Linked DNA regions of Homo sapiens: region 2 is linked to region 1. The links come from fine-mapping of genetic effects on gene expression. A gene starts in region 1. The other region holds a variant in brackets. All regions are shown on one strand. Distances are between the middles of the regions. Region 1 holds the start of VAV3-AS1 (VAV3 antisense RNA 1). Region 2 overlaps VAV3-AS1 (VAV3 antisense RNA 1).

What was found. PIP is the estimated chance that this variant, and not a neighbour inherited with it, causes the effect.
Region 2: its variant is fine-mapped to the expression of VAV3-AS1 in spleen (GTEx, PIP 0.97).

What each region holds. Positions count from the first base shown.
Region 1 is chr1:107,959,750-107,975,920 of GRCh38, reverse strand. VAV3-AS1 (VAV3 antisense RNA 1) reads right to left here and starts at 11,478. Exons shown (of 3, transcript NR_046653.1): 1 at 11,417-11,478. VAV3 (vav guanine nucleotide exchange factor 3) reads left to right here and starts at 10,741. Exons shown (of 27, transcript NM_006113.5): 1 at 10,741-11,255. The coding sequence starts at 11,052. RefSeq lists enhancers at 9,955-10,024, 9,960-10,254, 11,601-11,730.
Region 2 is chr1:107,989,779-108,005,949 of GRCh38, reverse strand. VAV3-AS1 (VAV3 antisense RNA 1) reads right to left here. Exons shown (of 3, transcript NR_046653.1): 2 at 12,315-12,445; 3 at 11,343-11,768. Among named protein-coding and RNA genes, the nearest start is that of VAV3, 33 kb to the right of the region's middle. The variant G/A (reference allele first, on the strand shown) is at 9,946.

The DNA of each region.
Region 1 (16,171 bases):
ACCATTGCTTAGCTCATTCCTGACAGACCTCTTTGAAAAGCAGAATTCAAGGTTTAGATTTTTTTCTAGTTTATCTGAAGAGTATAGGAATATTGTGAAGAAATTTTGGGTAGAGAATCTGAAGGAAAAGATAGATCAGACACAGACAGTATCTTAAAACTCATATCTTGGATTGGTTTTTCCAAACAGTAAAATATTGCCTGTATCCTTAAATGCAGAGAAGCGAAAAGTGGTAGTTAAAGCTGACTTCAAAAATAATTAAATTATTTTAAATAATATATATGGGTGTTTACTGATACTAGTTTCTGGCTATTTAGAAATTATAACTGTTTTTAATCTGTAATGAAACTATTGCCACATTCAATATATACTTCACAAGACATTAGTAAAGAACTAAGCTTTTAATGTCTGAATATGAAATATGTAATGAGCATTAGAAAAGCAATTATTAGGTACATATCTACCATAAAATGTTCAAACTGGATGTAGTAGCAAAGAAAAGACCTTTCTAATTACCCTCAGTTCAGCATCAGAGACCCACAGGCCCTGTGATAGCAATGTCTGTCTCCTTCTCACTTTTACTAAAAAGTAAACTGTGGTTCCAATGGAGGTGTTGGGGACACATCCAGATCCCAGGGAGCCGCCTTAAGAAGAAATCTCAGCCAGTGGCTGCATCTTCCCAGACACTTCCACATAAGAGATCAAAATGAAAGGAATTGATAGCTGGCCAACAGCAAACTCTCATTCACTTTGACAGCTGTAACTCAATTCCTCATAAGTGTGATCAAGATAGACTGCGAGGCTACAACCCTTGCACTGTGAGTATTGATCATCCGTCTTTCCCAGTGGCTTCTGGCAGTCCCTCTCCCATTGTATTGTGAGACAGCTGAACCACTTGGGAGATTACTTCTGATTAAGTCAAGTGAATTAATACATCCATCATCTTACATATTTTTTGTGTGTGGTGAGAACATTTAGGATCTACTCTTATAGCAATTTTCAAGTATGCAATACATTATTATTAACTATAATCACCATACTATACCATAGATCTCCAAAACTTATTCATTCTGTTACACTGTCACTTTGTACCCTTTGGCCAACATCTCCCCATTCCTGCTCCCACCCTGCCTCAGCCCCTGGCAACAACCATTCTACTCTGTCCCTGTGAATTCAACATTTTTAGATTCCACATGCAATGAGATCAGGCAGTATTTGTCTTTCTATGCCCAACCTCTTTCACTTAGCATAATGGCCTCCAGGTTTATCCATGTTGTTGCAAATGATAGGATTTCCTTCTTTTTAAAGGCTGAATAGTATTCCATTATTATTATAGTACATTTTAAAATCCATTCATCCATTGTTGAACTAGATTGATTTTATATCTTGGCTATTGTGAATAATGCTGCAATGAACATGGAAGTGCAGGTATCTCTTGACATAATGGTATCATTTCCAGAAGTGGGAATACTGGATCATATGGTAGTTCTATTTTTAAATTTTTGAGGAACCTCCACACCATTTTCCATAACGGCTGTGCTAATTTATATACCCACCAACAATCTACCAGGGTTCCCTTTTTACCACATCCTCACCAACACTTATCTTTTGTCTTTTTTATAATAGCCATTCTAACAGGTGGTTTTAATTCCATTTCCTTGGCAATTAGTGTATTGAGCATTTCTTTCATACCCTGTTGGTCATTTATATGTTCTCTTTGGAGAAATGCCTATGTAGATCCTTGGCTCGTTTGAAATCTGTTATTTGTTTTATTGTTATTGAGTTGTTTGAGTTCCTTAGAACATTTTAGAGTTTTCAACTAATGCCTTCAACTCGTTTTGATTTATCAAATTGCATCACTGTTAACATTTTTGTGCCTGGAGCCACCCCAGAAATTATTCCTGGTTCCTGGCACTTAGAGTGATTAAGTAGACAGAATGAAAGGAACAAGAATATGGACATATTAGGATTCTAGAAGATGACAGTTTTCATTTAGCTAGATGCCCTTCTAAGACTACAGTGGACCTTCTGTGTTCTGCCTGTCCAGCAATCCCTCCAGCTCAGTGCTGGTTCATAAGTTTCATTGTCTCAAGTGCCATAAGAAGTTTACACTAAACACTTCCACACAGAAAGATATAGAGTGCCTTCTTCGTGCCATCTTTCCTACTCTCATCTTTAAGTGTTAAATACATTTTCACAGGGATTTAGTTTAGGGACACTGTTTTACTCTCACCCTATAACCCCACATAAAATTTAGAAGAGTGTTTTTGTTCTTTAGAAAGTGCAAAATTAATATTTATTAAATGAGGTAGGTAAATCAGATTTTATAGGTTAGGGCAGATTGGACATTTACATATATATATGTAAATTTTCCTATTTTCTTCAGGCCTACCAATTTCATCCTATTCTCTCTTTAAAATAATCTGAATGATTATTGTTCTCTCAGAGATATCCTCTTTAGACTTATCTCTTTCTTTCTTACACCCCAATGATATATTCTGATTTAAATAGCCTAAGAAATTAGCCCCTGAGAAATGTCAGCAAAAGGAGAAACAAAGCTAGCCGAACATATGAGTTATTCCCTAAATCTAGGAAATTTCTGAAAGAACAGATGAAACGTTGTAGCCAGTGTCAAAACAAACAATGAAGCAGAAAAAGCTACTGTGTTTTCATCCTGACCAGATGAGCACTCTTGGTGTGGCCAGTGAGTCTTCCTTTTTCCATTTGTGTGTGCAATAGAAACCAGTTTATGATTTTACAGGTAACCTAATGCCAAGATTGCAAAATGGAGCATAGTCTGCAAAAATATATAATTGTGTAAGTGTCTACGTGTGCATGTGTGTGAGATTAATATGGCACATTAGGTTTCCATTTTAGTGCTTTTTAGCTTTGTCCTGTCCTTTCCCAGAAAAGCTGGTCAAGCTTTTTTGAATCACTTCTACACTGTTATGATTCTGATGATCAAAAAAGATACCCACAGGTTTTCTAAAGCACAGCATTTCACAACCTTATGTCAGTCTGAAACAAAATGAAACAAAACACAGCAAAATAAAACAAAACGGTTACATTAGAAAAGATTAAATGGAATGCTTAAAGAAATTTAGAAACATTTAAAACTGGAACATTTTAAGAATTAAAAATAAATTAAAATTGCTTTACCAAACAAATCTTGATTCTTTTCTTGCTATTTGAATAGGAATGGGGGGAAGTTTCACTCATGTAAATAAAATGTAAAATTATGTTTTGTTAATGACTTTCTGCAGGGTGTGGAACATTTAAAGTTGGCTGTGTATAAAGCCATCTTGTTGGCATCTGCTCTTAGGGATCCCTCTGTCTTAAATCTCCAGAGAGGCAGAATGACATCATGGTTAAATGTGTGAATCTTGGCATCAGGATGTTCCAGGTCCAATGCTAGCTTTGCTACTTATTGGCTATTTGAATTTAGGAAAGATAGTTGAGCTTGCTTAGAGTCGGTTTCCTCATCTACAAAATGAGGTCAATAATAGTAACACCTCAGAGAGGTTATGAGAATCAAATAAAACCATACATATGAAGTAGGTAGCTCAATAGCTAGTTGTCAGTGCTCATAATATCATCAACAAATAGCTGTTGCTGCTGTTATTATCTGATCTCAGGCATGAGGTATGAATTTAAATATATTGCATTTTCCAGGGAGAGTTTCTAATTGTTCTATAATGAATTTTAATTGTTAAACATAAATCAAGGACTTTTTTTTTTTGGTTTTGAATGTGGATGGAGGCAGGGTGCTTTCTAGTACTCCTGCATTCTCTACATGGGTAAACCCAATCTGTCCTTCTGTATCACTTTATTTTTCCAAGGACATTGTTGGTGGCAGGAATAAATCTGAGTGACATGCCAAAATGGTAAGTGAAATTTTCTCCTCTCTCATCACTACTATAATGACATGGTTTACATCCCTCTTCACCTAATTTATTCATCCACCCACCTCTTCATCCATCCAGTTATCCATCTATCCTCTACTAAGTGCCAGGCATTGGAGTAATGACATGAATAAGGTACAATCTCTGTTTCCAAGGACCTCAAAGATAGTCAGGGTTGGGGTGAAAGGAGGTTGGTGGTAGTTGGGGTCTCAGACACTTAAAGAGATAATTATTCTGCAAAGAACTTAGTAAAACGATTGTGATATACACAGGATTATATGGAAAAAGGGACATCAAGGACTTCCCACAAAAGTTTCTTTGCATTGGATTTTAAAATTCACAATCTCTGTATAAAGAACTTTCTCCCTGGCAATTTCTTCATACCAACATGCAAATGGATTTAAATATTCTACAAATTAGATTAAGGTCCTTAGTTGTTGACAGGAATACACAGAGCTATTTAGCTTTTCCCTGTAAATTTAACCTCCTTAGTTATCTTTAAAACATAACATATATGTGTATCACCACTAATGTTCTGAAAATGGACTAATGTCTAATCATGGCTTGAGAGCTGCAGAATGTTTAATGTGAACCAGACTTTGAAAAGACCCAGCTGAAGTGCAATTAACTCAGTGAGGTAAATCTTTGGAGCCTCATTTTCTGTGTGTGTTGGTGGGGTATATACTCACAGAGTGGGAAGAACACTTGTATTTCCATTTATTTCATTATTTCATTTATTTGGACATTGGTTAGTTAATTGGTCTTTTATTAATCCATCCCTTGTAACACATAGACTTACAGTCATGTTCTAATCCTCCTTTTAAAGCTGCTTCTTTGGAAGCTTTTTTTTTTGATGGAGTTTTGCTCTTGTTGCCCAGGCTGGAGTGCTATGGCACAATCTCGGCTCACTGCAACCTCTGCCTCCTGGGTTCAAGTGATTCTCCTGCCTCAGCCTCCCGAGTAGCTGGGACTACAGGCGCCTGCCACCACGCCTGGCTAATTTTTTGTATCTTTAGTAGAGGTGGGTTTTCGCCATGTTGGTCAGGCTGGTCTTGAACTCCTGACTTCAGGTGATCCACCATCCCTGGCCTCCTGAATTGGAAGCTTTATGTGTCATAAATTACCTCAAGTAAATTTCTTCTGTTAGATGGTAAGCACCATTTAGAGTATGGGTTATTGTCATTGTTTTTGTTACCTTTATTATTATAATCAAGGACTTGAACATGTCAGAAGAGAAAAGAAATCCTGTGATCCTAACAAGACCCTGCTCATTTGTACCTAATTCCAAAATCTTTAAATTCACACTGATTTGGGCACATTTATTAAAGGAACAGTTATTATAGAAATCTTACTCTACCCTCATTCTATCTCCCCAGTGTTTTTCTGGTATTTACTTTAAAGACAGTATCAAATTACCAGAAATGTAAAGCCCACATCCCTAATGTGTATGTGAAACCAAACTACATTTGATTGTAGTTGAAGGAAATTAATCCAGCAAACAGTCTGGATTTCAGTTTGCTGTTTACAATATTTGTATTTCTGCATCTTCAATTCTTTCAGAAACTGATTTATCTTCAATAGGTTATGTACCATCCATGATTTACTTCTCTTATAACATAAAAAAAGAAATACAATGAGGAATAAAGACAAAGGCCGGGCGCAGTGGCTCACGCCTGTAATCCCAGCACTTTGGGAGGCCAGGGCGGGTGGATCACCTGAGGTCAGGAGTTCAAGACCAGCCTGGCCAATATGGTAAAACCCTGTCTCTACTAAAAATACAAAAATTAACCAGGAGTGTGCCCATAATCCCGGCTACTGGGGAAGCTGAGGCAGGAGAAATCACTTGAACCCGGGAGGTGGAGGTTGCAGTGAGGTGAGATTGTGCCACTGCACTCCAGCCTGGGCAACAGAGTGAGACCCCATCTCAAACAAACAAACAAACAAAAACATTAAGAGTTGGAAGAATAATAAGAAAAAAAGTCAGTAAGGAGTGGAGAGACAATACAGATGGAGCAGGCAATGAATTAATGTGGCTTTCAGATCCTTTACTTCAGTTTTTTGGTACATTTGGCCTGATGTAGAATGTCCTACGATGTAGGATATAATTTTGAACATGGCAAGGGACCTAGTATGTGATATCCATCATCTGTCATCCTTGTCTTTCCTGCAGTTCAGGATGCCACTTATCCCATTTCCTGTTTTCATACAGTGTAGGGCTGAAGCAAGATCCAAACAACACTGTGATACAAAAGAGAAACAGAGGGCAGCCTGCTCATCTTGGAGGGCACGGAAAGACTAGCGAGACACACACAAAAAAAGCAGGCCAGGCGCGGTGGCTCACGCCTGTCATCCCAGCATTTTGGTAGACTCTTGTGGGCGGATCACCTGAGGTCAGGAGTTTGAGACCAGCCTGGCCAACATAGAGAAACCCTGTCTCTACTAAAAGTACAAAAATTAGCCAGGTATGATGGTGGGCGCCTGTAATCCCAGCTATTCGGGAGGCCGAGGCAGGAGAATCGCTTGAACCCGGGAGGCGGAGGTTGCAGTGAGCCAAGATCGCACCATTGCACTCCAGCCTAGGTGACAAGAGTAAGACTCTGGCTCAAAAAAAAAAAAAAAAAAAAAAAAAGAAAAAAGCAGATCTTTTTTCATGTGACTCTTATGCCTGTTACAAGTAATGCTGGCAAATCCTTCCTGATCTTTTCACCACCAGAAAGACAGGATAGAAAGGCAGAGAGGGATGGAGGGAGAGCAAGAGGGTTAACATAGCTTGTTCATTTATTTACTCACCAAACTAATATTTATTGTTTGTCATGTGACAGGCACCAAGGTTGGTTCTGGGAATTTGAAGATGAATGAGTTACCACCCTTGCCTTCAAGGTGTTTCAGTCTAGCAGGGAGAACGATGTTTAAACCAGTAATTAAGCTTGATACAGCAATTATTTTAATGCTGAGCCACAGCTCTGAACAGAAGGGGCGCAGATGTGGAGACACAAGCTCATCCTTTTATTGAGTTCCCTAATAAAGAGCAAGATGCTTAACTCTGTTGATCTCTAGCTTCTTCATTAAAATGGGTGGGAGAGCATCTTCTCACTTGCAGACAGTGCATGTAAAGTGCCCAGAAGAGTGCTTGACACATAGTGGGCATTCAGCAAATGGTAGAGTGTGGATGTACTACAGGGGCTATGAAGGACTCAAGGGCAGTAGGACCATAGGAGGGGTCCTGAAGTCACACGTCAGATATGCAAGAAAGAACTTCTTGCACACCGCAAGAACACTAGGTACCAGGATTAGCAAGGAGTTGCCACTGATGAGTTGGTCCCTATTTCCCAACTTGCCTTCACTAGGTGGAACATTTCCTTTAAGGTTGCAAAGGGAGGTCAGTGCGATAGCTCACACCTGTAATCCCTGCACTTTCAGAGACCAAGGTGGGCGGATCACTTGAGTTCAGGAGTTCGAGACCAGCCTGGCCAACATGGTGAAACCCCCATCTCTACTAAAAATACAAAAATTAGCCGGGTGTGATGGTGCATGCCTGTAGTCCCAGCTACTCGGGAGGCTGAGGCAGGAGAATCGCTTGAACCCAGCAGGTGGAGGTTGCAGTGAGCGGAGATCGTGCCACTGCACTCCAGCCTGGGTGACAGGGCCCTGTTCCCTGCACTGGACCCCACTCCCTCTCCCTTGTCCTCCCCAGCCTCTGCCTCCTGCTCTCACTTACTGCTCTGATGACCAGCCAGGGCAGGCCTGGAGGCCGAGGTCAGTGGTTTGTTGGGACAAGGGCTGGTTCCCAAAAAGCCCCACAAAAATTAACCAGGTGTGGTGGTTTGTGCCTGTAGTCCCAGCTACTCAGGAGGCTGAGGCCGGAGAATAGCTTGAACCCGGGAGGCGGATGTTGAAGTGAGTCGAGATCTGCTGCACTCCAGCCTGGCTGACAGAGTGAGACTCTGTCTCAAAAAAAAAAAAAAAAAAATTGTAAAGGGAAAAGACTGTAATTTTTTCCTTTAGTAAGGATAACTCAGGTGAGAAGCCCATTGCATTTTTATTGCACCAATTTCTGACACTTAAATGTCTTTCACGAGTCACCTATTGGCACTTAGCTCCTTGTTTACGTGAAGAATCCCGTGTCTCCACTAAACTCCTTCCCTTCTAGGCCTTCCATATATTTTCCTGTTGCCTTTCTATCAACTCTGTGGTTTACTATATTTGAGAAGCATTATGTTTTGAAGTCATATATTATATACAGAGAAGTGAAATAGAATATTTGGTCGTTGTTGCCACTTGTTAATGAAAAGTGGCTACTATTGGGTAATATTTATTGAGCTCTAATTATCAGGCACCACACATTCTATGCATTGTATCAGTGCTTCTTGGCTTTTGATGGAAATACATGGGATATGGAGATCTTAAAATTCAGGTTCTGGTTCATTCAGTATGAGAGTAGAGGCCAAACGTCTACAGTGCTGACAAGTTCAAGGGTGATGCTGCTGTCCACAGGCTGCATTTTGAATAGCAAGACATTGTACCATTTGATCCTGACAACAACCCTATTAGTTAGAAATTACTTCTTATGGCCAGGCACGGCGGCTAACGCCTGTAATCCTAGCATTTTGGGAGGCCGAGGCGGGCGGATCACGAGGTCAGAAGATCTAGACCATTCTGGCTAACACGGTGAAACCCTGTCTGTACTAAAAATACAAAAAAAATTAGCCGGGCGTGGCGGCCGGCGCCTGTAGTCCTAGCTACTTGGGAGGCTGAGGTAGGAGAATGGCGTGAACCCGGGAAGTGGAGCTTGCAGTGAGCTGAGATCGCGCCACTGCACTCCAGCCTGAGCGACAGAGCGAGACTCCGTCCACCCCCCACAAAAAAAAAAAAAAATTTCTTATTTCGTATCTATGGAAACTGAACTGTAGAGAATTTATCCAAGGTCATGTTGCTAGAAAGCAGTACAGCTCGGGCTCTAAATCCAGATTTGCGTCCTGGGATAGTGTATATAATGTGGATTTTGGAAATATTCTCCAACATCCAAAGGTGATCTGATGCTACCTGAAAAAAATTCATAGTTTTAGTTTAAATTTTGACCCGTTTAATGAAATTTCTTTTTAATTTCTCTTTATGAAAGACTGTGTTAAATGGTGATTCAAATGTGTTGGATTTTGCTTCTAAAGGTATGTAGAGATTAGTATGATTTATTTGCCAAAATTATGGCCTAGAAAATGTCGTGCTATTGATGGAATCCGCATTGAACACAAGAGGAAATTGCTAGGGAAGGATGCGTGTGAGGAAAGGAAATCCTCAGGCTGATTTATTGTTCAGCGCTGAGTGTAAACAGTGTGCTATCCTTGTCACAGCCAAACGAAAAAGGACGCAATCACTATCCTGAACAGATCATTCTTTTAAAAATAATATTTTGGCCTGCTTATAAAGCATGGTTCGTAATAAAAAATTTGGGCTACAGAAATATAATACAATTAAATTATCCAAACTCCCATCTTTTTGTTTGTTTGTTTGTTTGTTTTTTGAGACAGAGTCTGGCTCTGTCGTCCAGGCTGGAGTGCAGTGGCTGGATCTCAGCTCACCGCAACCTCCGCCTCATGGGTTCAAGCGATTCTCCTACCTCAGCCTCCCGAGCAGCTGGGACTACAGGTGCGTGCCACCACGCCCGGCCAATTTTTTGTATTTTTAGTAGAGACGGGTTTTCACCGTGTTAGCCAGGATGGTCTCGATCTCCTGACCTCGTGATCCGCCCGCCTCGGCCTCCCAAAGTGCTGGGATTACAGGCGTGAGCCACCGCGCCCGGCCTATTTTCTAATTTTAAGTGAATGCATCTCAAAAGGGTGACGAAGGACCACATTCCTATCGAACAGCAATAATTCACTGTGGCAATATCTTGCCACAAATAATTTAAACATTAATTGTGGTTTTGAGGGGCAGTGTGCAGTGGGAGTAAAAGGGGTAGGGTTTAGAGTCTCCAAAAGATTTACTTAAGAAACACGAATGCACTGCTTGTGCACTGCGCAAAAGTTCTGGGGTCAAGTTCCAACTTTCACTAAGGATCCCAGAACAGCCCGGCAGGAGCTGCCCAGGGCTAACGCGCTTTGCTCTCAAACCCGGCCGCCAGTCGCCGACGCATGCGCAGTCTAGCACCGTGGCACAGGCCTTTCTCAAGCAGGTTTTTGTGGGGTCAGCAAAAGGGCCAGAACAGCAACGGCAAACAGTTCCGAGCCTGACAGTGCAGGGGCAAACCAGCTCCAAGTGAAAATCACCTCGCGAGGAAATAGGCTCAGGGATCGGGGCGGTTTCCGCAGGCGTCTCCACACACGCACTCTCACTCACTTTGAGGGTGCCAAAACACCACTAGGGGCAACTAGGAGGAATAGGCTGAGGAATCAGCTATAGAGAATGGAGGGGATAGAGCTGCAAGGGGCGAGGGGGCGACGATCTCTAAAACTTTCAGCGCCGTGCTCTACTGATGCTCTAGGCACTTTTTTCATTGCTCTGGGGAGTCTGGGTGCCCCAATTAATCCGTCGCTCCTTTGAGCATTTGTTGTTTAGGGGGTCCTGGGGGACCCCATCGTATTACAGTATTCAGCCACACTCCCCGCAAAGCCGGGAAGCCGCCCCGAGAGAAGACCCCAGGACGCCGGGGGCTGCGTGAGCCCCGCAAGGCTGCAGGCGGGGGCGCGGGATCCCCTTTCTGGCCGCCGCCCCCCTCCGCCGGCCCCTCCCCCGCGCCCCGCCCTCGGCCACAGACCCCAGCCCCGGCCGCCGGCGCGCTCCCACCCGCGCGTCTGGGGACTTGCGGACCGCAGCGAGACCGGCCGGCGTGCTGGGCATGCTCAGTGGCGGGCCGGGCGCTGGAGTCGGAAGCCTGTGCGCGGCAGCCGCCGCCGAGCCGGCCGGGGCGCACGGAGAGCGCGCGGGACTCGCTGCAGCGGCGGCCGGGTCGCGGCGCACCCGGGCCGGGACCGGAGCCGAGCCTAGCGCGGCGCCCGCGACCCGTCAGCCGCGGCTCCTGCTCCCTCGATCCCGCGCGGGGAAAGGGCCGGCGGCTGTTGGCGTCGGCGGGGCGCGGAGGAACCGCGGCGGCGGCGGCGGCGGCCGCATCCTTGCCGCCCGCCCCGGCCCAGCCGCGTCCCGGAGCCGTCGGGCATGGAGCCGTGGAAGCAGTGCGCGCAGTGGCTCATCCATTGCAAGGTGCTGCCCACCAACCACCGGGTGACCTGGGACTCGGCTCAGGTGTTCGACCTTGCGCAGACCCTCCGCGATGGAGTCCTGCTCTGCCAGCTGCTTAACAACCTCCGGGCGCACTCCATCAACCTGAAGGAGATCAACCTGAGGCCGCAGATGTCCCAGGTGAGGAGGCCGGCACGGGCGCCCCGCCTCCAGCCGGCAGCTCCCATTAATCATGCGGCTAATTTCTTTGTGTAAATGCAAACGTCTAGGTGCGCTGAGCTTGCCCTGCTTCCCAGCCTTCTGCTTTGGGACCACTTCGGCACCACTTTGGCGTTTCCTACCTTGGCTTGAAATGGTTTAGCTCCTCAAGCTGAATGCGAAAGCTTTGCGTCCGGAGATGGTGTGAGGATTTCGTAAAGGCTTTCTGTGAGGCGGGAAAGAAATAAGTTGTCTTAGGGTGCCCTTCACCTACTCTGCGTGTGTGTGGCGCGACAAAGGGAATTTGATCAAGCTCTTCTATAATAACGAAGGGGAGGGACGAAACGAGGTGATGGGGTAATTTGCCTTTAGTCTCTTCTTTTGCTTTGCGTCTTGTACTCATGTTTTCCTAAAAGAGGAACCATGACATACATGAGGACTCGAGGAAGTGAAGGGCGTTTGGTCCCGTTATCTGTCCAGGAGTGACATTGGTCAAAGGGAAGAACAGGGAGCAGAACCCGGAGGCCGCCCCCAGGGCCCCTGAGCTGGTGGCCAGCCGGCAAGCTCCCGTTTACAGCTCTTCCTAAGCCATGTGAGAAGGAGCGAGTCCAGCCTCTCTCAGCAGCGACAGGAAATGAGAAGTTTCACTAGAGATTCCGCTTTCCTTCCTGCAGTGCCCTGCTCAGGTGCTGTGGTGCCGGTCGGCTCCTGGGGCTGGAGCTGCCTCTTTGAGGGTTAAGCCAGACACCTCTGGAAGGTTGGGTGCACCCTAGAGTCAGCTCAAAAGTCACAGTTCAGTGGAAGAGTAGTTTATTTGTCCTGTCGGAAAATTTTTGTACAGAAGGATGTTAAACTCGGTTCAGAGCCTCTTTCTCTTTCAGAATGTTAAAACAAAACAAAAAACCAAACTGCTTTCAACTTAAAAGGGAGAGGACAGAGCCCTCTCCCTGACACATTTCAGCACTAATCCTCTATGACGCAGAGCCTCAGCTACTTAGCAACCAGAGCAGCGCCTTTTAAGAAGGAACGGACTTTATATGATTTAATAAGTATGTATTTAAAGTTAGAGCACACACAGTCATCTGTGATTCTTGGTGTCAGTGTTTCATCAGGGTCCCCTGCACTTCAGATTCTGCATTCCTTGCCTGTTTGCCTTCAACCTGCTGGTGGGCAGTCCCTAAGAAAGAACAGGCATGGAAGTGGGGAGAGCCATACGTATTTAAAAGTGAGGTAAATTATTTTATACCCCCATAAACATGCATGGTGATTGCTACCTCTCGGTACCCCTTCAGAGTTGTCTCAACTCTGGAAATTCCTTTGAGGGGTTTGGCAGACTTTTCTATTATGGTGGGAGCTGCAGTTAGCTACTCTCACACATCCCCATTTTCCACTTTGCCTGTAGCCTCAGGAGGCAGCGTGGGTCAGGATGCCTTGGCCCACCAGTAGGGAGTACAGTACTGTGCACATTTCCTGGAACTTGTTTCCTGGAACTCTCAGCAGTTGCTCTCAATAATCACGTTTTCTGGACAGCTGAAGACCTTTTTAAACCTCGAAGCCTTTATTTGAATGCTAACAATGGATGAGAATCGTTTTGAATGTGTTTCACTCTTCTCCTCTTATGTTAGATGTAATTTAATCTTTCTGATGACCAAAGATTGTCATTATAAGCATCATTAATGAAAATTGAGCACATACAATGCTCTAAGAGTTCTGTTCCCTAGTGGGGGTAGCAAAATGAGCACACCAGGATACTTGCCCTAAAGGAATTATTACACTATGCTATCAGATGGTAAATCACTGGGTTATAATAAGGTAAGTAGGACAGCTAATGACCTTCTTTGTGCCGTTGCACTTTTGAGTTCTTAAGTCTGTTCAACCTTGAGGTTTCTGGTTCCAAATTAAGTACAGTTTCTCCTGTAATGTCCTATGAGAGGGTGCTTCCCTCAAATGTGAATCCTAGAAGGCTAGTACCTGAGCCTGGTGATGTCTGTTTTTGCTTTCCTCATGGTTCTTGGCCTCATTGCAGAGAGGCAAGGCTGCTGAACAAGTGGATGCTAGGCCGATGAGTTTGTATCATGCAGGTTGTCATTAAATCCTTTAATGAGACTTATGAAATGATTTTATGAAACAACTTGACGTATTTAACATGCTTATAGTGCCTAGCACATGTACTTAATAAATGTTTACTATTAGCAAAATTATGAAAAACATTTTTTCTGCTATTGTTATATTAAGAGTAATAGGTTCCAATAGAAATTTTAAAACAATTGTAGAGGCCTACCGGTTCCTTTGGGCTGATAACCCTAGACATTTTGCCGCTAACTACTCATCTCTTTCTTGGGAAAGGTTCTAGCTGTAGTGAATACACTATTAACCTGGTACAACCCTGTCATGTCCCAGCAGAATGTATTCCCCTGGAGTTAGAGATGTCATTACTAGTACTTGTGGCGTTTTGGTATGTCTGAGAGTCGTTCTGTCTACTTAGATTCTGTTGAAGATATTAATTTGAAATAGACTATTTTTTATAGCACATGATCTCCTAACCTGAGAAATAACTGGAAGCTGTCACTTCTGACTTTTGTGACATATTGAGACTGTAAAGAGCAGATGTTGACAAAAGAAATTTTAATTTATTGATGTTTTGTTTGTAGCCTGTTTAGCTTTCCTGAAAGAGGCTATAAAATGACCAGCCTTTTAAAATGAGTGTTTATTCCAGTGAGTGGGATGCCTTTCTATTCTCTGTTAGCCTTCTGCCTTGTTTGCATTTAAAAAAATAAATAACTGCAAATAATGACTGCTCAATTATAGGTTTGAATCTTGGAATCTTAATAAGTTAGTTGATTATCTTTCAAAATAAAAGCATGGATGGGATCCCAGTTTTCTTACTTATTGTTCTTTCTGGCTGTTGACATCAGTTTGTTTTTGATCTTGCCATCTTGGTAAGAGGATGATCTTCAGTTCAAAAATAAGTATATTTTTTCATGCTGATTTAGTGTTTGTTTTTATTTATGATAGGTTAAAGAGGTAAACATTAATCATATTTAGTTATACATTTAACATGTTCCTCTTATTATATAATACAGTTAAATAAAATGCAGTTGGCCAGTGAATATCTAAGAAATTTGGTGTCTGTATATGTTAGATTTTAGTGTCTATATTTGAGATTTATTTTTCATCTGAAACAGTATTCTAGCCAGGACACAAAGCATGTGAATGATTCTGGAAGAGAAGAGCCTACTGGTGATAGCTGTACTGGGTGGGCGGCACATGCTGGGGTTGGGGCTGGGGGTGTGCCTGTGGAAGGGCATGAGTTATTGGCTTGATGTCACTTTTAGTGGTTAAGAAGATCTTCATGAATGCCTATAACCACCCCTAGATCTATCATGAATGAGAGTACCTTAGTCTTAGTTTGAAACTTAAAATTTTGCTTTATACTATGCTTTATAGTAGGGGTAATACAGTCAATGAGTTTAGTGGCCACTATGGACAGTGTATGTAAACTTTGAATTGTTTAAATGAATAATTCAGACTTCAAGGATTCCTTCAATGAATATTTACTTGGTCCTACTATGTTCCAGGCGCTGTTTTAGACACTGTCTTGGACAAACTCAACAAAGTCCCTGCCCTAAAGGGGTTTGGATTTTAGTAGAGTTGAACCATAAATAAATGACTGTATAATTTATTTATATATTTATATTTTTACATACAATTTATTGTATATAATTATTTATATATTTATCTATAATGTGCTATGAACCCATTTGAAGCTGAGTTAGGAACTAGAGAGAAATGTAATACAATTTTATAGAAGGTAGTCAAGAAAGTCCTCTCCAAGGGAGTGACAATTAGGTGGGACCTGAAGCGAGTGAAGGAACACAGGAATGTCAATGTTTGGAAAAAAGAATATTCCTGGTGGAGGGAATACCAAGTGCAAAGCTCCTGAGGTCATTAAGTGGCAGGCATACTGGAGGAACAGCAGGGTCAGTGTGGTTGGAGGAGAGTGAGTGTGGGAAAGAGTGGGAAACGTGAAGTCAGAGAGAAAATGGAAGCTCGATTTTTAGGACTTGTGGGCCACTTTAAGGACTTTGGATTTCACTTTGAGTGAAATGAGAGGTCAACAGAGGGATGAGGAGAGGAGTGACATGGCCTGATTTACCTTTCTTTTCTTTTCTTTTTTTTTTTGAGACGGAGTCTTACTGTGTAGCCCAAGTTGGCGTGCAGTGGCCTGATCTCAGCTCACTGCAACCTCCGCCTCCCAGGCTCAAGAGTTTCTCGTTCCTGAGCCTCCAGAGTAGCTGGGACTACAGGCACGTGCCACTACTCCCGGCTACTTTTTTGTATTTTAGTAGAGGGGGTTTCACCATGTTGCCTAGAGTGGTCTCCAACTCCTGAGCTCAGGCAGTCCACCCGCCTTGGCCTCCCAAAGTGTTAGGATTACAGGCATGAGCTGCCACGCCCAGCCCTGATTTACCTTTCCTACAGTTACTTTGGCTACTGCATTGAGAACAGACTGGAGAGCAGCAAGGATAGAAGTGGCCAGGCTAATACATCATTCAGGCAAGAGATGATGGCGGCTTTTACCAAAGCAATAGCAGGGCAGATGGTGGGAAGAATAGGCTCTGAATATATTCTGAAGATGGAGCCAGCAGGGGTTTATTGATGGACTAGATTAGGGATATGAGAAGAGAGGAGTCAAGTATGTCTCCAGAATTTTTGCCCTGAGAAACTGGATGATGAAGTTCCCATTTACTGAAATGGAGAGGACTAGAGGAAGTATGGTGTTGGGGTGTATGTGGGGAGAGGGGAAGGAATATCTGGAGCTAGTTATGATTGAAGTGCCTAGTAGACATCTAGATGGGTACGCCGAGCAAGTTGGAGGAGTTGGAGATGTAGGTATA
Region 2 (16,171 bases), 30 kb before region 1:
TTTAAAATGACTTTAAATCTGTCATTAAATCCATATGGTTTTATTTTTCTATATTGGATTAAGTTATCCAGAGATAGTTTGTTCCCTTTCTTCCTCCAAAGAATTATCTCTTTAAATTGATCAATTCTACCATCAGTTGCATTTAAGTGTCTATAGCAGGCAGCATATGCTACTTAGCAAAGTAAGCAGATGGAACATGCCTGCTATTAGAGCCATAGATGCATCAGCTAAATTCCCTTTACTTCTTCCACACCTCCTTTATCTAGTTCTCTACTTACCTCTTTAAATGGAATGTCTAAGAAGTAACCAAATAGATGTCTTCAGTTTGAAATTTTCCATTTTTTAGACAGAATCTGAAGCAAACCTTTACATTTGTATTCTGGAATTTTATGGCAGCATAACTACTTCTCAGAACAATGTGGTATTATGAACATTATAATTAGATTAGAAATTGAATTGCTAGAGTTCCTTTCTAAAATATGTGTATTAGTCCATTCTTATGCCGTTATGAAGAAATACACGAGACTGGATAATTTATAAAGGAGAGAGGTTTAAATGACTCACAGTTCTGCAGGGCTGGGGAGGCCTCAGGAAACTTACAATCACTGTGGAAGGGGAAGCAAACACGTCCTTCTTCACATGGCGGCAGCAAGGATAAGTGGCAAGCAAAGGGGGCAAAGTCTCTTATAAAACCATCAGATCTCGTGAGAACTCCCTCACTATCATGAGAATAGCATGAGGGTAACCACCCCCATGATTCAATTACCTCCCACTGGGTCTCTCCCACGACATGTGGGGATTATGGGAACTATAATTCAAGTTGAGATTTGGGTGGGAACACAGCCAAACCATATCAATGTGTGTGTGTTTGCATGTGTGTGTGTGGGTGTATTGCCCACACCTCAGGCTTCAAAACCCATTAAATTTGCCACCAAATGAACAATTATTTTTCCCACTTATTGCCTGTACTTTTTCAATGAAGTCTTGACAAAGTGCAAGTTATGAACATTGGGAATGGCACACTAGTGATGGGTGTGCTTGGGTGATTGCAGTTGCCTGCAACCTAGGTTACAACCAACACATAGATACGTGGAAACTGTGGTTGTCCTGCTTGAAACAGTGAAAACTCCCCATCTTTACTAAGATTCCTGATATATTCCTATGTCAAGTACATGCCGAAGATCCTATTTATAATGCTGGAATCTGTGCTGGGCCATTCTCACTCTCCAGAGAGTGAGAAATGTATTTCAGATGCTCTTTTTTGCTGACTATCATTTAGAATAATTTCTCCATCTACAGTTAAAGAAATTTTCTAGGAACTCGACAAAGGAGCAAAGATCAAATTCCCAATTATACTGCTTCTGTCTAATTGAGGCCATCACCCAACTGGGTTACAGATTGCTAGAGAGAGCAATTCTTGTTTTATATATATTTGTTTTTCTAATTTTTCTTGCCAATCAATAAAGTTCTTTTGATTCTTTTAATTGAATGGTAAATAGTATACTTTGGAGCATATATGCACTATTATTTCTAAAACCTATGTATTCCTATTTTGCCTTCTTAATTTTAATTTTTGGTTCTCAAATATATAGGAAAAAATATGCCAATGCTATTGTTTAACATTTTCTTCCTCATAGCCTAGCCTATTAAGCATGAGGCTAACATTTTCACGCTGCCATTTTACTTATCAAATCCAAACCCGAACTGCAAAACAATAGAGTCACCAAGACGGTAAAATATAATCTCTAGGACAGTGGAGCATTATGGGTCAAAGTAGGTGATATTCACAATGGCTCTTCATCATTTGGGCTACATGAAACTGTGTGGTAAACATCACTTGCTTAGCTTTTCTTATTCAATCTGCAAAGGGAAGTTCAGACTACGGAGTCTGGAGCTCTCTGACTTACAGAAGTATCTATACAATTTACATAGTAGTGTGTCAGTTGACACAAGCTGGTATTTACATTTACAGTTTAAATGAATAACTTCTATTTCCTATAATAAGCATCTATAGATTAAATGCCACAATATGTTTTACAAACTTTGTTATTATGTATGTTGCAATAGAAGGTTCATCCCTGGAAGATTAAACACTACTTTTAAAAGTTGATGATCTCAGGAGGTCTCTTGCTTCTCCAGGAGCATAACACAGTGATAGAGTTCCTTCAGGTTTAAACTGTTTCCTCACCTGCCCAGTTTCTGAACAGGGCTGTTTGTTTCCTCTGGTTTGGTATGCAAGGGATGTAAATATTATCTAGCATTCTATTTGTTTTCTTCTGAGAACACAGCTAGTATACTTCCTTGAGAATTTAAAGTGCATGTAGCAAAAGGAGATTTCTCTCCTACATTTTTTCAAATATAACTCTGATTTGCAGTTTTAACACAGATGGAATCAGAGAATATATGTTTTATTATTTTTCTCTAAAACCACAATCGCCCAGTCTCCAAAAAGGAAGGGCTTCTCTTTTTTTCATCTACTTCACGGCCTCTTTCGCTCTAACTCCAGCTTTGTGGCTAAGTTTTGGTGAGAAGAATCTCATACACAGCTGGGAAAACTGTATGATCTTATTCTTCCAGGTTTGGTTTTTCATTTGTTTGTTTTTGTTTTGAGATGGAGTTTTGCCCTTTTTGCCCAGGCTGGAGGGCAATGGCACAATCTCGGCTCACTGCAACCTCCGCCTCCAGGGTTCAGGCAACTCTCCTGCCTCAGCCTCCCGTGTAGCTGGGATTACAGGCTCATGCCACCGTGCCCAGCTAATTATATATTTTTAGTGGAGACGGGGTTTCACCATGTTGGGCAGGCTGTTCTTGATCTCCTGACCTTGGGTGATCTGCCCGCCTCGTCCTCCGAAAGTGCTGGGATTATAGGTGCGAGCCCCAGCGCCCAGCCCCAGGCTTAATTTTTAATATGTTAAAGAAATTAAAGATATATTCTTCTGCCAAGGACCATTTTTAAGCATATGATCTTGCTTGGGCATGAGAGAGGATGTCTAAACCCTCTCAGCATACCTACTTTATTCTGCGCTGGGTCTTTTATGACTTGGAGTCAAAAGTGGAAGAATGAAGTGAAACACTTTTTTGAGAGGTAAAATTTATTGGTCTATTGTTTGCTAAAAGATTCTTCTCTCAGTAATAAATGCTGGTGGTATTTTCACCTTGAAGACCTGATAAACATCATTCCTCAGTTCATCCCAATAGCTGTTTGGATTTTCATTGGAACTGTGTGTGCTAGGGAAGGTTGTGCATTTGATTGATGCAGGCGGCCCTTCTGTTCTCTTAATTACATGTAGAGCAGCTCTGAAGAAGGAAACATCACTTGGGAGATGTGGGTGAGTCTAGGCCCATTTTACAAATTAGTGATCATTTTTGGTCCCCTAAGAAATGTTTTTATCCTCAAGTTCTTTGAAATGTCAAATCCTACCATGATTTATATTAATATAACACTGTTTTAAGACTTTAAAATTGCCAAGCACAGTGGCTCACATCTGTAATCCCTGAATTTTGGGAACCAAGGCAAGAGGATTGCTCGAGCCCAGGAGTTTGAGGATACAGTGAGCTATAATCATGCCACTGCACAGCAGCTTGGGTGACAGAGCAAGACCCTGTCTCTTAAAAGGAAAAGTAAAAAATTCAAAATTACAAAATAAAAATAGAGGAAAAAGAATAGTCAGAAGTAGTGAGTATTTCTAAATTATAGTATTCATTTCTAATACTATAATATACATTTCTAAATTAGATTAGTGTTAGAAAAACCACACATTTGAGTAATCTTAAGCATCCATACTAATTGTGGCATTCTAGTTTACTTTATGAAGTGCTCCTTTACTTGTTCATTACTTGGAAGACCTTTGGTATGATTCGAACACTTTGTTTCCTCCAGAATTAGAGTATTCAAATAGGAACCATTTTGAAGAGCTTATCTGTGTCCATCTTGGGACATTAGTATAATATCCCAAGAGTAAATATAATATTTACCCTAATATATAGGGTAAATTGTTATACTTTAAATATAACAATTTATATATAACAATTAATTTAATACAACAATTTAATTTAATAACAACAATTTAAATATAACAATTTAAATTGTTAAGGGTAAATTTTGTTATATTTTAAAAATACTTTAGTTTGAGAGCACATGTGTCTAGAATATTTACAGTGAGCCATGCCACAGAGGCTGAGTAACCTGACCTTGTGACAGAGTCAAAATTCATATTCACAATTTGTTAATCATGCGGTATAATTCAATTTTTGGCTGCTTTTGGATTTCCGGTTATTTGGAGGCTGTTTGATTGTTACTGATGGCTACAAATTATAGACTGCTTTCATGCTTGACTATTAATCTGTATATGCACACAAGTGATATAATAAATCATCTATATCTGGAAGAGATAAAATAATTTCTCCAAGTCTTTTATTTTCTAGGTGGGGCTGTTGACCTGCAAGTGGTTAAATGAGAAGTCAGGAAGGGACTGAGCCAGGACCAAAACCCAGATTCCTGATGTCTGGTCTTCATTCATGTACTCCATTCCTTCGTGGTATAGTCTAATTTCATTTGTTCACTCATCCATCCCTTCATTCCAGTGCTCTTTGTATCCAATCTTGATTATGTGAGTTCAGATTTTACTGTGAATTATTGGCAAACTGAGTGTGAGTTTGCAAAACATTTCTAAAGCCTTGCAGTGGGACACCTTTCTATCTCAATACATACAGGCAAAAGGACAGATATTCTTATGTTAAGGTGTAAGTATAAAATGCTAAGCTTTTATCCCTAGAAATTCAGCAAAAAGATACAGGACACCTTTGGCAGCCCTGGGAACAGGCCAAGTCATTCTGCTCAGCTATGAGGCCCATAGGCCGGGCCTTTCTTGAATGTCTCCTGACCCAAAGGGCAGCATGGCTCAGTGCCAGCTGATCTCTGCTCCTCCAAGGGTAATTCCCCAGCTTGGGGCAAAGTGGAGGGGAGGCCAGCTTCAAAGCCTCCTTTGGCTTGTGGAAAAGCACAGTCTGGAGTGGGACAGCTGCCAAGTTCACCATATGAACGTTCATTTTGTTTGGCTTATAGTCAAGCAACAGCAAAAAAAAAAAAAAAAAAAAAAAGCCCACAACAGCTTGGGAGTGAGTAATGGGTTACCCTGGCTCTTGGAGTTTGTCATCAGACAGGGAGAGATCTGGCCTGGAGTGCTCCAGGGGAGGCCATAGGGTTCTCAGTTGTGGATTTGTTTTCCAAGCCAACTTGTGACCCTGAACATGGATGCTTTATTGATTCCTATCTGCAATAGATCTAAGGGAATGGTTTTAAACAGGCCCTTGATTCCTTCCCTTGTGCTACTGAAAGATCACTTAATTAATATTCAACTGCAGTGTTACAGGCTGGCCATCTCCTCTGCGGGCTAGAATGGACTGAAATTTGCGATGGCAGAATAGGTCAGGATGTTATTATTATTATTAATTTCATTACTGATAGCGGCAGTGGCAACTGCAGTAGCAATAGTATTAAAGAAAACACACGGTAGTGACAAGTGAAGGATGCCAGGGAAGAGACTCCATCTAGCACTGCACAAAACCACGAGGCTCTGTATTTTCAGGCGCTGCAACCCAGGTGATCACTCAGCTGGCTTGCTTTTGCTGCTCCCTTTAAGGAAACCTGGCCTGGTGTTAACTCCAAGCTGCCCATCTTCTCCTATACTCCCTCACAATGCAAATTTAAACTTAGGGTAAAAAAAAATTGCCTTCTTAAAACAAATGTGGATTTGAGAGGTGCTCACACATGGCTGAGGCAAGATAGTTGAAATCTAAACTTGGGTTTGTTTATTTATTTATTTGCAGAAAGGAAAGAAGTCGGGTTTTAAACATGCTGACATTCTGTACTAACTTTTATGCTAAGATAATGAGGTCTGGAGAGGTCTATTATGAGAAGGGTAGGAGTTAGAAGCTCCCAAACCATGACTCTGAAGAAAGAGAATTCCTTTTGAAAGAGACTTTGTATGCTTTGAGGAAACAATGAAATCCGAAACAGAATGTGTGAATGTGTAAAGGAAGTCAAAGGAGTAGAATGAAGGAGAGGAGTGGCTTCTCTTAGCTCTTTTTGAATACCAGGAAAGAGGAGTTTTTCAGACATTTTTGTGACTAGGGTGAAATATGGGAAAACCATAATTTGGGATAGATTTGGTCCCAAGTAGGAAAGACTGTTTCCATAGTGTCCAGGTGGTTAAATGAAATCACTCTGGTATCAGCATGGAAATAACAGTAAAGGTAGATTTGCAAGGCAAGCCTTCCCAGTGAAATCCTCCCTTCTTTTCCACCCACATCCTCCTCTGTATTCCTAGAGCATCTTTGGTGTACCTCACTTATTAGAGGATATTATACTTAATTAGAGTCATATAGTACGATGTTGAGAGCATGCTCTGCAGTCTCACAGTCTGGGTTCAAATTCCAGTTGTGACTTTCAGGTGTTGATTTCTAAAGACCATTGCCTACTAAAGGGAGTCAGAATTCCTTGGGGGAAGTGGTCAATTCCAGGTGAGGAGTATATAAATATGCTTCTGGAATACACTATTGTGCTGGAAAGCAAGACATGCTCAGAAAATCATGAAGCAATGACCAATGGATAAGGAACTGTCTTGGGCTCCCTTGGGTTAAATTTGGGAAACATTTAAGCATTAAAATAATAACAATGATGAATTATAATATATTGATTTTTTGTTTGTTTGTTTTTTGTTTTTTTAGTCTTGAAACGGAGTCTTGCTCTGTTGCCAGGCTGGAGTGCAGTGGTGTAATCTTGGCTCACTGCAACCTTTGCCTTCTGGGTTCAAGCGATTCTCCTACCTCAGCCTCCCGAGTACCTGGGACTACAGGTGCCCACCACCATGCCCAGCTAATTTTTGTATTTTTAGTAGAGACAGGATTTCACCATGTTGGCCAGGATGGTCTCTATGTCTTCACCTCATGATCCACCCGCCTCGGCCTCCCAAAGTGCTGGGATTACAGGCGTGAGCCACCGTGCCTGGCTGGAAGCATGATTTTTAAACATCTACAACATGACTGTATATTATATAATTTCATCATGTACAGTATACATACATATTCATAAATGTATACATAAAATCTAATTTCTTCCTAGTTTGAGCCTTAAAAATAAATTTAAGAGGTACAAGTGCCATTCCATTACATGAATATATTGTGTAGTGGTGAATTCTGGACTTTTAGGGTAGCTATCACCCTCTAGTTTGAGTCTTTATAAAGCAAAATAAGAGAGAAAGAGAGAAGGAGAGAGAGAGAAAGAGCGAGGAAGAGAGACAGAGAGAGAGAATTACCATTGGTGACTACAAGAATATTACCACAATAGTAAATTCCCTGCATTAATGTACACTTCAACAGAGAGAGAAAACCAAGCTCAGAGAAGTTAGGACTATGATGTGGCCCAGAGAGCAGAAAACTAGAAAAGAATACCAGTTGTCTGGGTCTACAACTAGGTCACACTGCCTTGCTACATTTCCTGGAGTGTGATGGCTTTTGCGCTTCGTTTCCAGGTCTTTTTCAGTGCATGGAATAGAAATGCTGCCCTACTTTTTCTCCAAACCTGAGAATATTGAGCAGAGTCCATAGTTAAAATTAATAAAATTCAGAAATTAATTCTTATTGAAAATGCGATGATGAGAGTAATGAGATTTTGATTTTGAATTGTATAAAGGAGTAGCCCTTATGAATTATAATACTTGCATTTACTATTCCTCAAAGGAAGGAAAATCACCGTTTTACAGCCTTCCAAGACAATTTTAACTTAAACCTCTGTTTTCTTGCTGTTTGTAATAATGACCTTTCTCCTTAAGGTTTGTAATCAGTGAGTAATAGAATAGAGGAACAAAGAGTCATGTTCTAATAATTAATGCAGTGTGTAGAATCCCTTTAAGCCTGTTGCTCCCAGTTCTCCTAAGAGGGAAATGTCCCTGGCATCTCTTAAAAGAATTATGTGTTCCAATCTGGCTAGACATCCAATGTTCTTTCCTATGAGCCCTAATTTTTATTTTCTAATACACTAGTATTTTCTAAGAAAATCTAATAAAAATCATGAAAGAGTAAATAAGAAATGGAATGATCATTTCATATGAAAGCATGTACCTACCATGAGTATTTTAATGAAAGGAAATGTGCCTTCCAAATCCCAGGAGTTTCTGAGAATGTGAACCATCGTCCATGGTCTGTCTTTGGGATCTGGACAACCTGAGAGCTCCCAAGACTGAGAACCTATCATTACTAATTACATAGATGAAATATATATTCCTCTTAACTTTGCAACACAATGACAACCACAAACTCCTTTTTCAGCTCCTAAATACAGCCTCCTTAATATAGCACAGTAAGGAAAACTATATAAGTAGACCAGTTAGGTCACACGCTAATTCCATTACCTTAATTGCTTCCCCATTGTATATTGAATACCGAACTTATATATGGACTTTATTAAATACTAGGCACTGTTTAAAGCATTCCCACACTTCAACTCTTTTTAATGTAACAGAAGAGGCTAAGTAACTTGCCTAAGTTCACATGGAGCCAGGATTCACACTCAGGAAGTCTAGCTCCAGATTTCATGCTCTTAATTGTTACTCAATATCAGAGTGAAGTTCTGTGGCTTTGGTGTCTCCTTCTTTTCTTTCTTTCTTTTTTTTTTTTTTGAGATGGAATTTCGCTCTTGTTGCCCAGGCTGGAGTGCAATGGTGCAGTCTCAGCTCACCCTCACCACAACCCCCACCTCCCGGGTTCAAGCGATCTTCCTGCCTCTGCCTCCTGAGTATCTGGGATTAGAGGCATGTGCCACCACGCCTGGCTAATTTTGTATTTTTAGTAGAGATGGGGTTTCTCCATGTTGGTCAGGCTGATCTCAAACTCCTGACATCAGGTGATCCGCCTGCCTCGGCCTCCCAAAGTGCTGGGATTACAGGCGTGAGCCCCTGCGCTTGGCTTTGGTGTCTCTTTCTAACCTTGATCTCCACTACATTCCTCAAAGACCTAATGCTGCACCCATATGGATTTACTGATTCTGGCCCACATGGATCCTATCACTGGGTCTGGACATATTGTTACTACTTAAAAGGTTAGGCCTTCTTGCTTCTCTATACACATTTTCACACACATTGCCCCATCAAAGAGCTACTCTTTCTTTAGAGCTCAGATAAAGTCCTATCTTTTCTGAGAATTCCCAGATTCTTTAGACAACATTAAGTATTCCTTTCCTACACTCTGGAAGTATTACTGTTAGAACCACTATCATTGCCCCTGTTGGAATTGGTTATATTTCCGTCTTTCTTAGTAAATGGAATAAGTGGTGTGCTCCTAGAGGGGCAAGATCCTTTCTTTTCTACCTCTATAGCCCACTCAGCACCAAACACACAGTAAACATTTGCTATAGCACTGAATTGAAGGCAAATATGATGGATATTGATGTATGAATGTTCAGTACATATATGTTCACATTTCCTGTGTAGACTCTCTATGTGCATGTAGCCATTTGCCTATGGTTATGTTTAGTCACTATTCTGGATATATGTGCTTTTCACAACAAGGGAGGACTGCAGAGCAAATACTAAATACAATCTCATGTCCAGTGTGGAGGCTAAGGAGTGTTCCATAGATCATCACTTTTGTCTTAGCACAACTACTGAAATAATGAAAAAATTAAATGATTCTTGGGGAATCCTGTAGTGCCTTGCTCATACTGACCATTGTTGTTTCCTTTGGCTACCTTTGACTGTTGTGTAAATGTCAGATTTCCCCTTGTGAGCTCCTTGGAAATGACTGAGTCTTTCTTTGTAATCACTCTGCCTAATAAATATGTAATGCTGATGAATGTCAAGATGGTATCATAAAACATTGAAACATTGTGTCTATGAAAATATTTATATTTGTTGAATGAATGAATTCATAAATGCACACCCCAGGCAA[G/A]GACTGGGAGATTATCTTATTCTAACTCATTATTTCATTGCTGCAGCATCTGATGCCAAAGAGGTAAGGTCTTGCCATTGGTCCCAAGGCTGACTAGTGATGGAACTGGGATTCAAATACAAGCATTTTGCCTCATTGCCCTTGGCACTTGTTTTTATCTACATGGTAGTTTTGGGGTTGGGAAGGAAATGAAGTTTTCTTTTTAAATAATTATATAGACTAACCTACGCAGTCAAGGAACTATGTGATGGAGTTTTCTAGATAGTCCCTTCCCCTCACACACACACAAAAAAAAAATCAACTTTTTTTCAGTTTATTACCTAAAAACTTAGGGAAATGAGTACATTTCCCTGCCTAAGTAGGATATCCTGAACATAATTGAATCTTTCTTCAATAATTTAAAATCTCACAATGCTTTGGGTTTATATCAGAAATCCTTGTTACCACAGTGTAATGGAATTGATTTAGGAAGTTGGGCTAATTATTTTACCTCATGGCACATTTTAAAGATTAAAAACAATCATAGGTCCTAGTTGTTTTGTCCCCACTTGTTATCCCTACAGGCTGAGAATGTGATGGTGGCAGAGAATGGAGATATGGTAGAGGAAGAATCATTTAATTCAAGATTTTAATTAGTTGGGTTCCAGCTAGTTTAAATTTGGTGCTCTGGGGCAGGGGGCGTGGCTTGGAGCCAGTCTCATTCTGTTGCCCAGGCTGGAGTACAGTGGCTCGATCTCAGCTCACTGTAACCTTTGTCTCCTGGGTTCAAGTGATTCTCCTGCGTCAGCCTCCCAATTAGTTGGGATTACAGGCATGCACTACCACACCCAGCTAATTTTTTTTTTTTGTATTTTTAGTAGATATGGGGTCTCACCATGTTGCCCCGGCTGGTCTCGAACACCTGAGCTTAGGCAATCCACACACCTCAGCCTCCCAAAGTGCTAGGATTACAGGCGTGTGCCACTGTGCCCAGCCAAATTTTTTTTCTATAATTTATGTATTACAGAGTAATCCCAGATACAGATCCATGTGAAGTAAAATAAATACATGTGAAATTTGGAGTAGAAAGAACAGAGATTTTGGAGTCAGACAGCCGGGGCTTTGAATACCAGCTTCACACTGTCTGTGAGACAGAGAACTGGTTATCTAATTTCTCTGAAGGTTGTTTTCTTTCATACAAGATGGAGATAATTATAAGAAGCTTGTAGATGCAGAGGAAGTAATATGCTCAGTTCATACTAGGAATTCTGTAAGTTTTGGTTCTTCAAATCCTCCACCCCTTGTCTTCCCAAGTAAAAGATAAGGTAGTTTTACGATGTAATGCCATATACTGTAAATAATAGGAGTAATATAACGTTGATTTTCTATAGAACTGATTGCTCAACTAGAGTGCTCCCTAAATTAATATTGCATTTTTTTTATTTTTAAGGGAATTACAGAGACTTTTAGACATTTGTAGAATTAAGACGAAATGTTAATAGTATATATTCTTTTGGTTCCATTAATATTGTCATTCTTGACTGAAAATGATGAATCTAACAAAATGGGAGATATTGAACAAAATTAATTCTACTTAACTTTTCTTTAGCAGACTTGAGGAGCTGCCCTTGGGGTCATGTGTGAGCTGCTAGCAGAAGCTTCAAAGCTGGATGAAATGAAGAGTGATACATATTTTTACTACCAGGCACAACCATCCCATCTTGCTGTGACCCTCCATGGGTTGCCTCTCTCTGGAAAGGTGTTAAAGGGGCAGGATTCCAGCTCGAGGGTGAAAGAGAGTCATTGGTGCCTAATCCATCCTGGAACAGCCACGTGGAATTTCTCTGTGGGGGAGAGAGGAGTACAGTTTCTATGACGATCACAGCTGCTCTGCCAAGACTGCCAGTCAGGATGCCGGCACTGCTAATTGCTATGCGGACATCCGTTCATTAGACTTTGACCTAGAATTACTGTTGTCTTTCACAAGGTAGGCAATGAATCATTGTGTTTGGCCCTTGCTTCGTCTCCTTCAGCCTAGGTTTGATTTGGATCAGAAATGCAATCTCTGCAGGTCATTACCTATCTTAGGAATGTTCCTAAAGTGCATCTTTTACAAAAGGCTAGGGTTTTATTAGAAAACAGAATATTAGTTACCAGTCTAAGGGCTTAGAGGGAGCTGGTTGTAATCCAGCTCTGCCACTCTGTGGTTCTGTGATCTTGGGCAAGTTGCTTGGCTCCTCTAAGCCAGTTATCTCATCAGTAAAATGGGGATAGCAATATATGTATTCTCAGGGGATTGCTATGAGGTGTGAGCAGGGATGAGTTGGAAAAAGTCTCTGATGCCTGTGTTGGCAACCGGAATGAGAGGGGGAAACTGGATGGAGTGATACCTAGATAACTGGCACTCAAGATCCACTCATGGCCAGCCACGATTTACATCACTTGGCTCTCTCCATTAATGTTGCATCCTTAGTAATTCAGTTTACTTCTCTTCATCCTTTATCCTAATCTGTGAAGAAACCTGTGACAATCAAACAGCAATGTCAATTCAAAACAAGCTTTGTTAGTTCTCTCAGTAACCAACAAAAAGTGTTCATTTTGGCCGGGCGCGGTGGCTCACGCCTGTAATCCCAGCACTTTGGGAGGCCGAGGCGGGCGGATCACGAGGTCAGGAGATCGAGACCATCCCGGCTAAAACGGTGAAACCCCGTCTCTACTAAAAATACAAAAAATTAGCCGGGCGTAGTGGCGGGCGCCTGTAGTCCCAGCTACTTGGGAGGCTGAGGCAGGAGAATGGCGTGAACCCGGGAGGCGGAGCTTGCAGTGAGCCGAGATCCCGCCACTGCACTCCAGCCTGGGTGACAGAGCGAGACTCCGTCTCAAAAAAAAAAAAAAAAAAAAAAAAAAAAAAAAAAAAAAGTGTTCATTTTGTTTTTGTAGAACTCCTATTTTAGATTTCAACCTTACTCCCAGAATTCTAGAGAGAGAGCTACAGATGTGGAGTGCTTTACTTTGGTTATGGAGTTGGAATACGGTAGGAGGAGGTAAATGCAGGTGTGTCCCACTTAAAGAAGTAAAACCAATGACTAAGAATAAACTTTTGGGGGGGGCTTCTAATAATATATGCCAGACACTGTGGACATAGAGACAGTTATAAAAACTGGAGTCTTCATGATGAGGAAACATGCCCGTCTAACTCTATCAAGGTCACCTAAGATTTGCAAAGAAGTGGGTCAGGTTTGAATCCCAGCTTCCCTACTTACCAGCTCTCTGATGTGAACTTCTCCCATGTTTGTTACCTGCAAAATTAGACGACACCTGTAGAGTGCTTAGCACAAGGTCTGGGACTCGAGGTAAACAATATTTTCTTATCCACATACCAAATATAAATATTGTTATTAGATTCATATATGAAGCCACTGGAAATGAGTGCTAGAGTTCCTCCAGGGAACTTTTAAGAGTGAGCTGAGAATTCAGCACCACTAACCTGTGGACCATTTCTGAAGGGGCAGTGTGACAGCAGAACAATTTCCAAGTGGAATTTTGTTGATGTTGAAAAAGCAATTGGACGTGAACATAGAAAAAAATATTTGGAAATTTCTATATTTTAAAAATGTAGTGCAAATACCCAAAGGAAGTTTAATTTTTTTGCTGAAGTTATATTCTGACTTTAAATGAAATGAGTTAATTTTCATTGTGTCCATCATTGTACCCCTGATGCTGGAGCCAACAATGCCATGACTCGCTGGAAGCAGCTGTACAAGTGGAGGGATTGAGCCTTGTGTTGCTAACTGTTGCAACTTGTGATTTTTTTCTCTGTGAACATGGATCTCCTCTAAACATGAGTATTTTATTTTGCCATAATACTATATCTACCTAAATGTCGAATGTATTTTTTTCTCCAGCTGCATCAAAAACAATTTTCAATCTCCCCATACCCCTTTTCTTCTGGTGCTGTTCTCTGCCACTTACGCAAGGGACCAGAGCACAGATCCTAAGAGTGCCAGGAACAGGCAACAAAGTCTCAACATGTTCCTGGTGTGGGAGGAGATTCTATGGGTGAGTTGTCTGCCACATCTGGGGGAGGCCTGGATGATGAAAGATGGCAGCTGTAATGATGAGAGAGGAGCCAGCTTCTGGGAGGCAGGGGCAGGCTTCTCTCTTACTCCTTCCACCTCTATCCAAATACCATTTGTGTGAATCAGCTGCCACTTGGCTTTAAGGGACGTCACTGCCAGATGCTCCCGTTCCCCCTTCTTGAAGCAACAGCCACCGCCCTTCTGACCCCTCCACATGCAGTAGAAGTCTTCTAGGGCCACTTAATGGTCATGGGGTGCAAGCATAGCAGCAGGCTTTTTTCTTCCACAGAATGTGTACAGGAGTTTCATAGTGACAATGAAGGAATTGGAGCAGTCCCTGGTTGCGTCAGTGAGCATCTTTGCTGGCACTCTCTCTAACTTTGTTGAGCACTTCATGTGCGTGGGACTCTGTGCTAAATGCGTTATGTGCAACATCTCATTTATCCTCACAGCAACCCTGTGAAATGGCTACTGGGCATCTCTGGGCTTCGCAGCTGTGGCAAAGGGGAAAGGAATTCAAACTCCAGGTCCACTGTGCTGTATGACTTTCCCTTTATAAACAATTACTCCAGAATGGGAGGTCCTGGAAGATCCTGCTGTTTGTAGGTCTGAATATGGAGGTTGTAGAAGACCCTGAAGAGTCCTGAGATTAGGGTCTCTTCCCAGCTATTGGAAGTGTGAAAGTTGTCAAAGTAATCATCTTCATTTTTCTTTAAGTACCTCTTATCTCCCTGAATACACACATTGTTTACTGTGGCTCCCATACTGCAATGCCCTTTTCCTGAATAAGCACCACTTTCTTTTAGAGAGGCTTTCTCTGTTGGTTATTTAGGTTGACAGAGGGCAACAGCAGTGATACAGAGGAGCCTCTGAGACACCCGGATTTCCCTTAGAACTCTCCCATTCTCTCTGGGGAAACAGCCAGTGAGGACACCAGGTCAGAAATGACAGCCTCCTGCAATGGCTGAGCAAGTAGCCTTCAATTCTGGCACTTGCTGCGGCCAATACTTCCATGTCTTTCCTTGTGGCTGCGGCCGGTTGCTCCAGGGTGCTCTGCCTCATCCATCTGATATTGCCCTAAATATTTCTTGAATGGCACCTTAGTGTATGGACTCCATCTTATTGTTCTGCCGGTACCTGAGTCATGGCGGTGACTCAGCTGGCCCATGGTACTGCCCTCTGACTGCTGTGCCTTGCTCATAATGCCTCTCATAACCTGAATTAGTGCCCAAGAGAGCCTCCATTGGCACATGTTTGCAGGATTTTCCATTCTATACAGTCTTCCACTGTCCCTTTCCTCTTCCTCATATGCCATTTTGAAGCAACTTGGAAATTCTAGTGAGCTTTCTAGAAAGCTATAAACTCGGTATCTCTGTCCAGGTTCCCCTCATCTGTCTTACCCTTGTGGCTGCCCTCCTGACGGTTAAACTAGATTCACAAGATATTGAGATGCATGAACTGCAATATATCATTTGGGATTTTTTTGTTGCAATCAGTGGAAACTATTCCTGGCTAACTTAACACAATGAAAAGGAGACAGATGGAGGGAAGGAGGGAGGAAGAGAGAGAAAGAGTGAGAAACAGAATCAACCCCAACAATTTCCTATTCTTCTGTCATTCTACCCAATATTTAATTTTTAGGAAACAGATAGGTCTAGCTTGAACCGTGTGTCCTTGATAGGAAACTTTTGCTGACTATCCCACCAAGACTGCATGCCACGGGGATAGGACATGGCCTAAAGGAGCCATTAGAAGAAGGGAAAGTGAGTGCTACACAGGGAACAACAAACACCCACCAAAGGAAAGCGGAGGTTCCTTGAGGACCTCCTAAAGCCTCTCTAGACGTCACCGTGAAGCCTTCTCTTAGATTTAGTTTCTTCATAGCCTAGAGTTCAGCTTGGGTCATGAAAATAATTTTCTCTAACAACAAAAGTTTCTCATGAATCATAGTTTTAACTCAAATTTTAATGAGGCCAGACATTTGTTTTTATGTATTTATTTATTTTTATTTTTAACTTTTATTTTAAGTTCAGGTTTACATGTGCAGGTTTGTTATATAGGTAAACTCATGTCACGGGGGTTTGCTGTATGGATTATATTTCATTATCCAGGTTCCAAGCCTAGTACCCATTAGTTATTTTTCCTGATCCTCTCCCTTCTCCCACTGT